Linked DNA regions of Homo sapiens: region 1 is linked to region 2. The links come from fine-mapping of genetic effects on gene expression. A gene starts in region 2. The other region holds a variant in brackets. All regions are shown on one strand. Distances are from middle to middle.

Region 1 (4,391 bases), 22 kb after region 2:
ACTTTGCACCTTTTTTTTTAGATGGAGTTTTGCTTTTGTTGCCCAAGCTGGAGTGCAATGGCACCATCTCCGCTCACTGCAACCTCCGCTTCCCAGGTTCAAGCTATTCTCTTACCTCAGCCTCCCAAATACCTGGGATTACAGGTGTGTGCCACCACGCCCAGCTAATTTTTTGTATTTTTAGTAGAAATGGGATTTCACCATGTTAGCCAGACTGGTCTTGAACTTCTGACCTCAAGTGATCCACCTGCCTCGGCCTCTGAAAGTGCTGGGATTACAGGAGTGAGCCACTGCACCCAGCCAACTTTGCACCCTTTTTAAACCTGAGGTCCCAGTGACCCTGGCCCCTATACTTGCCTACAATTGTCTTGTCTTGACATTCTGCTGCCTGAATCAGCTGAAAGCCCTTTTTATTCCACAGAAATGTTCTTTTTTGACCAAGCCTAAAGGCCATACTTAGAAGCAGAAAATACGAAACAACCCCTGGCTCTGACCTTGTCTCCATCAGCCATCCAGTGTCTGGTCCACACTACAGCCCTGCCAGCTTCCTGACAAGCTGTGCATTTCTCATGGCACTTTCCACACCTGTTCTGCTGACCTCGGAGCCCCCCTGAATGGGCTTTGTAATTTCTCAACAAGCTGGTCTCAAAGCTCAGTGTGGATTCACTTCTCCTGAGAGCCTCATCAAAGAGTGGGGATCTTGCCATTTCTACACTATCCAAGCCTGCACTTGCCCTCTAGTTTTCCAAAACAATTTACAGGCACACACTTAGATGATCAAATTCTTAAAAAGAACAAGGATGATGAACAAAAAGAAACCAAGATGATGGTTACTCTGGAGACGAAAGATGAGAACATCATAGGGTGGGGCAAATTGGGGTTTCCAAAGTAGTGGTGATTTTTCAATTTCTTTACCTGAGTGTACTTATTTGTTATTCTCTAAACTATATAGGTACATTTGTATGTGTGTAAATATTTGTGTGTATATATATAATACACATACAAGTGCTGCATATGCTGTGTGATGTGTATTTATGTTTAGCACCATAAAGTCTATTATTTTAGCCCAAGATTACTCTCCAAGAATAATCCCTATTTTTTCATTTATTAATAAGCAACATTTATTGAACCCCTTTTACATGATATGACAGACCCTGATAAATCAGACAGCAGTGAACAAAAAAGACATAACCCATCTTCTCATGAACTTAGCACTAAGTTTAGGAGGGATAAGAGTAACACAAAATATCAAAGTATTAGATAGTGCTACAAGCTATTATAAAAATGGAACAAGTTGGTATGAAAGTGAGCATCAGTGTGTGTGGGGTAACAGGGAGTGCCAGCATGTGCAGGGTGACAGTGAGAGCATGTGCGGAGATGAGAGCGACAATGTGTGTAGGGGTGACGTGTTTGTGTGTAGGGCTAACTATGATAATCGGCATAGGCATGAAGTGAGAGTATGTGTAGGGGTGACAGTGAGTGGCAGTATGTTTAGAGGTGACAGTGAGTGAGTGTGTGTAGAGGTAACAGTGAGTGGCAATGTGTGTAGTGGTGACAGAGCATGTGTAGCTGTGACAGGGAGTGACAGTGTGTGTAAGGTGGCCATGTGTGACAATATATATGGGGTGACAGTGAGAGACAATTTGTGTAGGGGTGACAGTGAGAGTGTGTGTAGGTATGACAGTGAATGACAGTATATGTAGGGTGACAGTGAGTAAGAGCATGTGTATGGGTGACAGTCAGTGACAATGTGTATAGGGGTGACAGTGAGAGACAATGTGTGTACAACTGACAGTGCATGAGAGAATGTGCAGGAGTGACAGCAAGTGATAATGTGTGTAGGAGTGACAGCATGTGTAGGGGTGACAGTGAGGGGCAGCATGTGTAGGGGTGACAGTGAAGGACAGCATGTGTAGGGGTGACAGTGAGTGACAGCCTGTGTAGAGGTGACAGTGAAGGACAGCATGTATAGGGGTGACAGTGAGTGACAGCATGTGTAGGGGTGACAATGAGGGATAGTATGATTAGAGGTGACAGTGAGGGGCAGCATGCATAGGGATGATAATGAGGGACAGCATGTGAAGGGGTGACAGTGAGGGGCAGCCTGTGTAGGGGTGACAGGAAGTGACAGCATGCGTAGGGGTAACAGTGAGGGGCAGCATGTGTAGGGGTGACAGGAAGTGACAGCATGCGTAGGGGTAACAGTGAGGGGCAGACTCTATAGGGGTAACAGTGAGG[G/A]ACAGTATGTTGGGTGACAGGGAGTGACAGCATGTGTAGAGGTGACAGTGAGGGGCAGCTTATACAGGGGTGACAGAGGGGGCAGCATGTGTAGGGGTGACAGTGAGTGATAGCATGTGTAGGAGTGACAGCGAATGACAGCATGTATGGGGTGACGGTGAGGGACAGCATATGTAGGAGTGACCATGAATGACAGCATGTGTAGGGGTGACAGTGAGGGACAGCATGTGTAGGGGCAACAGTCAGTGAAAATGTGTAGGAGTGACAGTGAATGACAGCATATGTGGGATGACAGTGAGGGACAGCGTGTATAAGGGTGACAGTGACGACCAGCATGTGTTAGGGTGATAGCAAGTGACAGCATGTGTAGCGGTGACAGTGAGCAAAAACGTGTAGGAGTGACAGTGAATGACAGCATGTGTAGGGGTGACAGTGCAGGGCAGCATGTGTAGGGGTGACAGTGAGTGAAAACATGTAGGAGTGACAGTGAATGACAGCATGTGTAGGGGTGACAGTGCAGGGCAGCATGTGTAGGGGTGACAGTGAGTGAAAACATGTAGAAGTGACAGTGAATGACAGCATGTGTAGGGGTGACAGTGAGGGACAGTATGTTTAGGGGTGATGATAAGGGGCAGCATGTGTAGGGGTGACAATGAGGGACAGTATGTTTAGGGATGACAGGGAATAATGGCATGTGTAGAGGTGACAGTGAGGGGCAGCTTAGGTAGGGGTGACAGAGAGGGGCAGCCTGTGTAGGCGTGACAGTGAATGACAGCATGTGTAGGGGTGACAGTGAGGGACAGCATGTATAGAGATGACAGGGACAGCATATGTGAGGTGACAGTGAGGGACAGCCTGTATAAGGGTGACAGTGAGGAACAGCCTGTGTAGGAATGATAGTGAGTGACACCAAGTGTAGGGGTGACAGGGAGGGACAGCATGTGTAGGTTTGACAGTGAATGACAGCATGTATAGTGGTGACAGAGGGGGGCAGCCTGTGTAGGGGTGTCAGTGAGGGCATGTGTGTGAAGGTGAGATGGAGTGACAGCATGTGTAGTGATAACAATGAGAGCATGTGTAGGAATGATAATGTATGTAGAGTTGAGAGTGAGTGACAGTCTGTGTGTGGGTGACCATGACAGTGTGTATGGGTTGATAGTGAGTGACAGCATCTGTTGGGGTGCACTTCAAACTGGGCAGGTCACGGAAATCCTCGCTGGGGAGGGGATATGGAAGAGGAAGCCTCAGTGAGAAGGATGCAGGCATGGGAGGATTTAGGAGAAGAGCAGCATGGTAATGGGCATAGCTAGTGCAGGGCCTAAGGCAGGAAAGAACTGGGCGCACAGGAGGTGCAGAGAAAACAAGGGTCACTGGAGGCTAGTGACCTGGGGAGGACACAGGAGGAAATAATAGCAACAGGCAGCCGCCAGAGCATGGAGAGCCTTATAGCCTGTATTAGGGGTTGGGGTTTAATTCTAAGAGTATGAGTAGCCAGTAAAGGGTCTTATGCAGGGGGGCTGATGTGATCTGATTTATAATTTGGGAAATATCGCTCTGCCAGCCGAAGGATGAGGTATTGTAGCATCGCCAGTGTAAGAAGAGCAGGAAGAGGCTATTGCAGTTGTGCAGGCAAGAGATGGTGTGATGTGAGGTACAGACATGTCCTTGCGTATGCAGAGACATGGGCCGCCTCTACTTGCAGCAGCTTGCTAAGTCCAGTCAAAGGTAAACATGAGGTCGTTTCCATGATTCTGCATAATAGTAGCAAGAGTGGCCATACTTAAGCCCGGTTTTGAGCATGTCACTCCCCAACTGTGAACTGTAGAGAAAAAAAATTCTAATCACGAGCTTCATGATCTTACAGCTCAGCCTCTCATTTTTATGTCTCCTCAATTACTTATTAAAACCTCTCATACTTTCTTAAAACGTGGGCAAGAGCCCTGCTCTAGTCCGTCAATATTCCACAGTCAGGGCACTGTCTTTAGCTCAGATTGGATGGTGTGAAATAAATAGGAATTTGACTTTATCCCCTTTGGAATAAAGCAGATTTTAATCTGGGACTTCTTTACAGGAATTTAGATAAACAAAGTAAAAATAAGAGGGTAGTTCATAGTACCGCAGAGGTACTATGCACAGGCTCTAGACTCAAAAGC
Region 2 (4,391 bases):
CACAGCCCAGGGCCCAAATGTCTGATTCACAGCCATGTCCTTGTTTGTTGAGGACTTCAGGAGAGAGATAATTTGGGGTACCACATATCGTTCTGGAAAGACAAAATATTGAGATCGTGTTAGGAACTATTCCACTACTTAAACTTGGTTCTCTTGACATGACTTGATGGGAGACAAAATCTTAAACAAAATCTTAAAATCTATACTGAATTTCTATTTGGAAACATTTGACTTTTGGCATCTGAAAATTCAATTGAGATCTGACCAAATGAGTTTTGGTAATTTTTAAAAATGCACACACGTTGTTTTAGCCCACATGCAAAGTGTTGTTAACCAACTAAAGCCAGGGACGTCGTGGCATTTTATACATTTTAAGCCAAGAAAAGACTTCATTGACTGCTTTCATAATCAATTTAGAGGCACAGGGTGCTCTGTCTAGTCCATAGTGGGCATTTAATAAGTATTTCTTTAAATTAACATTGCTATGATTTATAGATTTTATTACCGGACCTCTGAAACATTAAATGCAAAATAATGAAGGCATATTTGGTCTCCACAAAAGTCTACTAGGATGCATCTTTCTGACTCTTACCTCCTTCTGTGTTCCAAGGGTTCTAGCCTGGCTGCCAGACCGAAGTCCCCAACTTTTAGTTCCATGGCTTCATTAATAAAAAAGTTCCCTAGACGATAAACAAAACAAAATGTGAATCCCTTTGAAAATGCGTTCTAACCAAGTACACACACATCCACTTTGGAGCCAGGCAGCCAATTGTTATATGAAAGTCGCCCATTCAAAAGCAAGATTGCAGACACGAGATCCCAATTAAGAACATTAATATGTAAAAAAAAACAGAGAGAGAAAAAAGAACTCTAACACAAAACTCAGCTTTTGGCGTCAATGACTTACCTAGTTTGAGATCTCTGTGCAAGATTTCTTGTTCATGAAGGTATTTCAGTCCAGACACAATCTGCCTGAGGTAGTATCGAACTTCTGGCTCTGTCAACACCTTTCTTGCTTTCAAAATATGAGCCATTGACTAAGAAGAGGAGAAGGAAAAAAGAGAATCTGTCAAAACAGTTATCAAAATCACTGGTTTCCCTTTGCAGGATGAGCAATGAAAGTTAACTTTGCAGTGTAAGTGCTGCCACAGCTAAAATCCCAGATAAAATACTCTTTGAATACCATGTTAATTCGGGGTAAGCAAATGTTCTCAAATAGGAGTTGACACTTACCCTTCTACTGCAGTATTCCAAGAGAATGTAAATGTTTTCTTTGTCCTCGAAGTAGTGGTAAAACTGCACTACATGCTTATGATGAAGAATTCTGTGAAGCTCTATTTCTTTGTCAATCTAAATGAAAAAGCAAGGTAAGGCTTATTAGCTTCCAGTCACCTCGGAAAAGCCAGTGATTACACATGCAGAAGACATTTTCCTAACAGGGAAGGGCCATCCTTGCACACAAAGAAAATACTTTACTCAAGAGTCATACGCACCTTTTCCCTTTGATGAGGTTTAGCTACTCTGCTGTGAGGAATAATTTTTGCGGCGTAGACTTTGTTATTTGTCAAATCTGTCATCTCGTAACATTTTGCAAAGCCACCCTGAAAGGAAACAAAGCCGAGACGGAATTGAGGATGGCACAAAAATGGACGGCAGATATTTTAAATAAATAAATAAATGGGAAGAAAGAAAAGCAAAAAAAAAAAAATTGAGGAATGGAGGAGGGTGGACAGAGGGAGGCATTCGACTTCGTTAAAGCTCCCTCATGAAGAGAAATGCATTGCTGGAAACAGCAAGTTCAAACAGTTTCTCTTCTTCTTTTATAAAGGGGAGCTTTATGGAGGGAGTTGGAACGGGGAGACATGAAAAATAATCTCTGATGAGACTTGTCAGGAAAATTCCCTGGGAGCAGATAGAGGGAGAGAGGTCTGATGTAGAAAGCCCTCGCTTCCAGACTCAAGATGCATTTCTCTGGGCTGCGGGAGACACACAGTTCTGAGGCTAAGAATGCAAAGCCGATCCCCAGCGCTGCCGGCGCACAAAAGCCAGAGGGCAGGTGAGGAGCCCACCTCGCGCTGGGATCGGACCCCCGAAAAACCCGGAAGCGGCGGGCGAGGGACCCCGCGGGCTTGCCCGGCTTGGGGTCGCCCGGACAGACCTCCCGCCCGCCCGGCAGCCCGGCGCCCTCCGCTTGTCACCTTTCCCAGCACTTTGCCCCGGCAGTAGCGCTTCCCAGTCGTGGGGTCGACGATAATCCGCGAGATCTCCGGCCCCGAGTGCGAATGGTGGTGATGGTGGTGAGGGGCCGCCGGGGGCACTTGCGCCTGGGACTGAGGTGGCTGCGATTCCTCGGGGGGCTGCGGCGGCCGCTTCTTCTTCGAGTCCGCTCCGCAACCCTTGCCCAGCGCCTGCTCGCACATTTTGGTGCTGGCGGCTGGCTGGTAGGTGATAGTCCGCAAAAGCTCCATGGTCGCCTTGCCGCCCCGCACTGCCCGCTGCCACCCCCTAGGCGCGGTCACACGTCCGAGCCGGCCGTGGTCCTCGCACCCTTGCCTCTGGTGCCGACTAGCACCCAACACCCCGGTCCACTTGTGCGAGTGAGAGCGCTCGGCGAAGTCTTATATACGGGGAGGCGGGAAGGGGGCGGAGACTCGATACGCGACATCACGTCACGGCCTATGCCCCGCCCCACGGCCGGCCGAGCGCGCGTGGCCGGGAAGCAAGTCTTGTCCCGCCACCCGGGTCTCGCTTCCCAGCGGAGCCGCGCGCCTCAAACGCCGGCCGCCGAGATCTCTTGCGGCCGCGGGAAGGCCTTCAGAGCCGTCCGTGGGCCCCGCTGTCCCGTTCTTCGAAGGCTCCGAGCCTCAGCGTACAAAACAGAATCGCGAGGGCCGACGCCTGGCCTCACCCCCGCCCCAGCCGCCTGGTGGCAGGGCAGTGCCGTGACCCGAGCGAGTCGGGCGCGGGTGTAGACGCAGTCCCTCCCCCGCACAGCCCTTCCCGGCCGCCCGGGGCCTCCTGTGTCAAGGTATCAGGGTGCCCGGAGCCCGCCGCACGGGCAGGCGAGGCCTCCTCCGGCCGTATGACAGGGCTCGTCTGCAGCTGCCCCGCAGTGCCTGCCCGCGCTGTGACGAGCTCGCTGGTGTCTAGCTGGGGCAGTGCCGAGAGGCCGTGGGGGTGAAAGGCCGGGATTCGTGGAGCCGGGCATTCGAGCCCATCGCGCTAGGGCAGACACGGGCCCGCAGCCGGGATCCCGGGCCGATCGGCCAACCGTGCCAGGATCCCACTCGAGGCCCGTCTGGCCCCCGCCCATGCCCCTAGAGCGAGCCTCTGTCTGAGGTCGGCCCCTGAACCTTGCAGAGCGAGGTCGGCGTCCTGGCAAGGCGTCCTCCGCCCGTAGCCCGAAGATTGGAAAGCAAGGGCGCCATCTTGTGGAATGTTCCGGAATGCCGTTAGGTGTCGAAGTGGGCAGCGGTTGACAACCGTGGGCCTTTGACAGTTACTAGTACTAAACATCGATGCCGATTGTGAGTTTCCAATCAGAGTCATCTATGACTTCTTCCGAATGCATCTGTTGAGATGGCTCATGAGCTGCCCTGGTTCCTGGAGAGTCAATCTGAGACTTTCTGGGGTAGGGAGATTGGTAGGATGAAGAGAGGAGCGTAGGCCAGTGAGTGCAAACACAGCTTAGTTTCCCATTTCCAGATTTTGCTGTGCAGTTTGACTAATCTAGGAACACGTTTTTTTGTTTGTTTTTCTTGTTCTAATTACGATAGAGTAACATTTATTGAGGACTGTGCAGTATTTTTAAATGCCTTATTTCATCCTACAACAATTCTGAGAGAAATATTGTAAGGAAGGAAAAATAATTTTCCACCTTTCAAAGTTTTGGCCTGGGTCGCTGTAACCAGACAGATTAACAAGAAAACAAAGAAGCTTATTAACATATACGTCTCATATATACATGGGAGATAACCAGGAAAATTAGAGATGGTTTAAAATCGGGCTTAAATACTATCTTTAGCTAAACCAAAAGAAAAGAGTGGGGCAGGCAAGTTAAGGAATCATGACCAGGAAATGTACGGTAAACAGGAGTGGGGTTTCTTATTTCTTCATTGATAAGTTTTTCATGATTTAGAGTCATTCTTCCTGGTACAGAGGAGACACTTTTACAAATGGAGTTTTGTGGGGTTTTTTTGTTTTTTGTTTTTGTTGTTTTTTTTTTTAGTGAATGTACGTTTCCCTTACGAAAGGGTAATATGCCATTTTTAGAGCATTTCCTGGGTCTGCTGGTTCTCAAAATAATTATCTTAAAATAATCTTTATCCCAGGGCCATATTTGGGGTGGCATATTCTCATCTCCTACATTATTATTCCCATTTTATAGATGA

Direction of the effects. Alleles are on the strand shown, and positions count from the first base shown. SD is a standard deviation of normalised expression in the study named.
For the expression in monocytes of the gene that starts at base 2,595 in region 2, allele A in region 1 goes with a higher level than allele G (large effect, 1.5 SD a copy in Quach 2016).

The links. PIP is the estimated chance that this variant, and not a neighbour inherited with it, causes the effect.
Region 1: its variant is the best candidate, but not a certain one, in a credible set for the expression of PLK2 in monocytes (Quach 2016, PIP 0.79).

The regions. Positions count from the first base shown.
Region 1 is chr5:58,479,571-58,483,961 of GRCh38, forward strand. No RefSeq gene overlaps it. Among named protein-coding and RNA genes, the nearest start is that of GAPT, 9.7 kb to the right of the region's middle. The variant G/A (reference allele first, on the strand shown) is at 2,239.
Region 2 is chr5:58,457,492-58,461,882 of GRCh38, forward strand. PLK2 (polo like kinase 2) reads right to left here and starts at 2,595. Exons shown (of 14, transcript NM_006622.4): 1 at 2,199-2,595; 2 at 1,494-1,601; 3 at 1,234-1,350; 4 at 908-1,037; 5 at 593-680; 6 at 1-92. The coding sequence starts at 2,468. RefSeq lists silencers at 591-885, 2,913-3,092.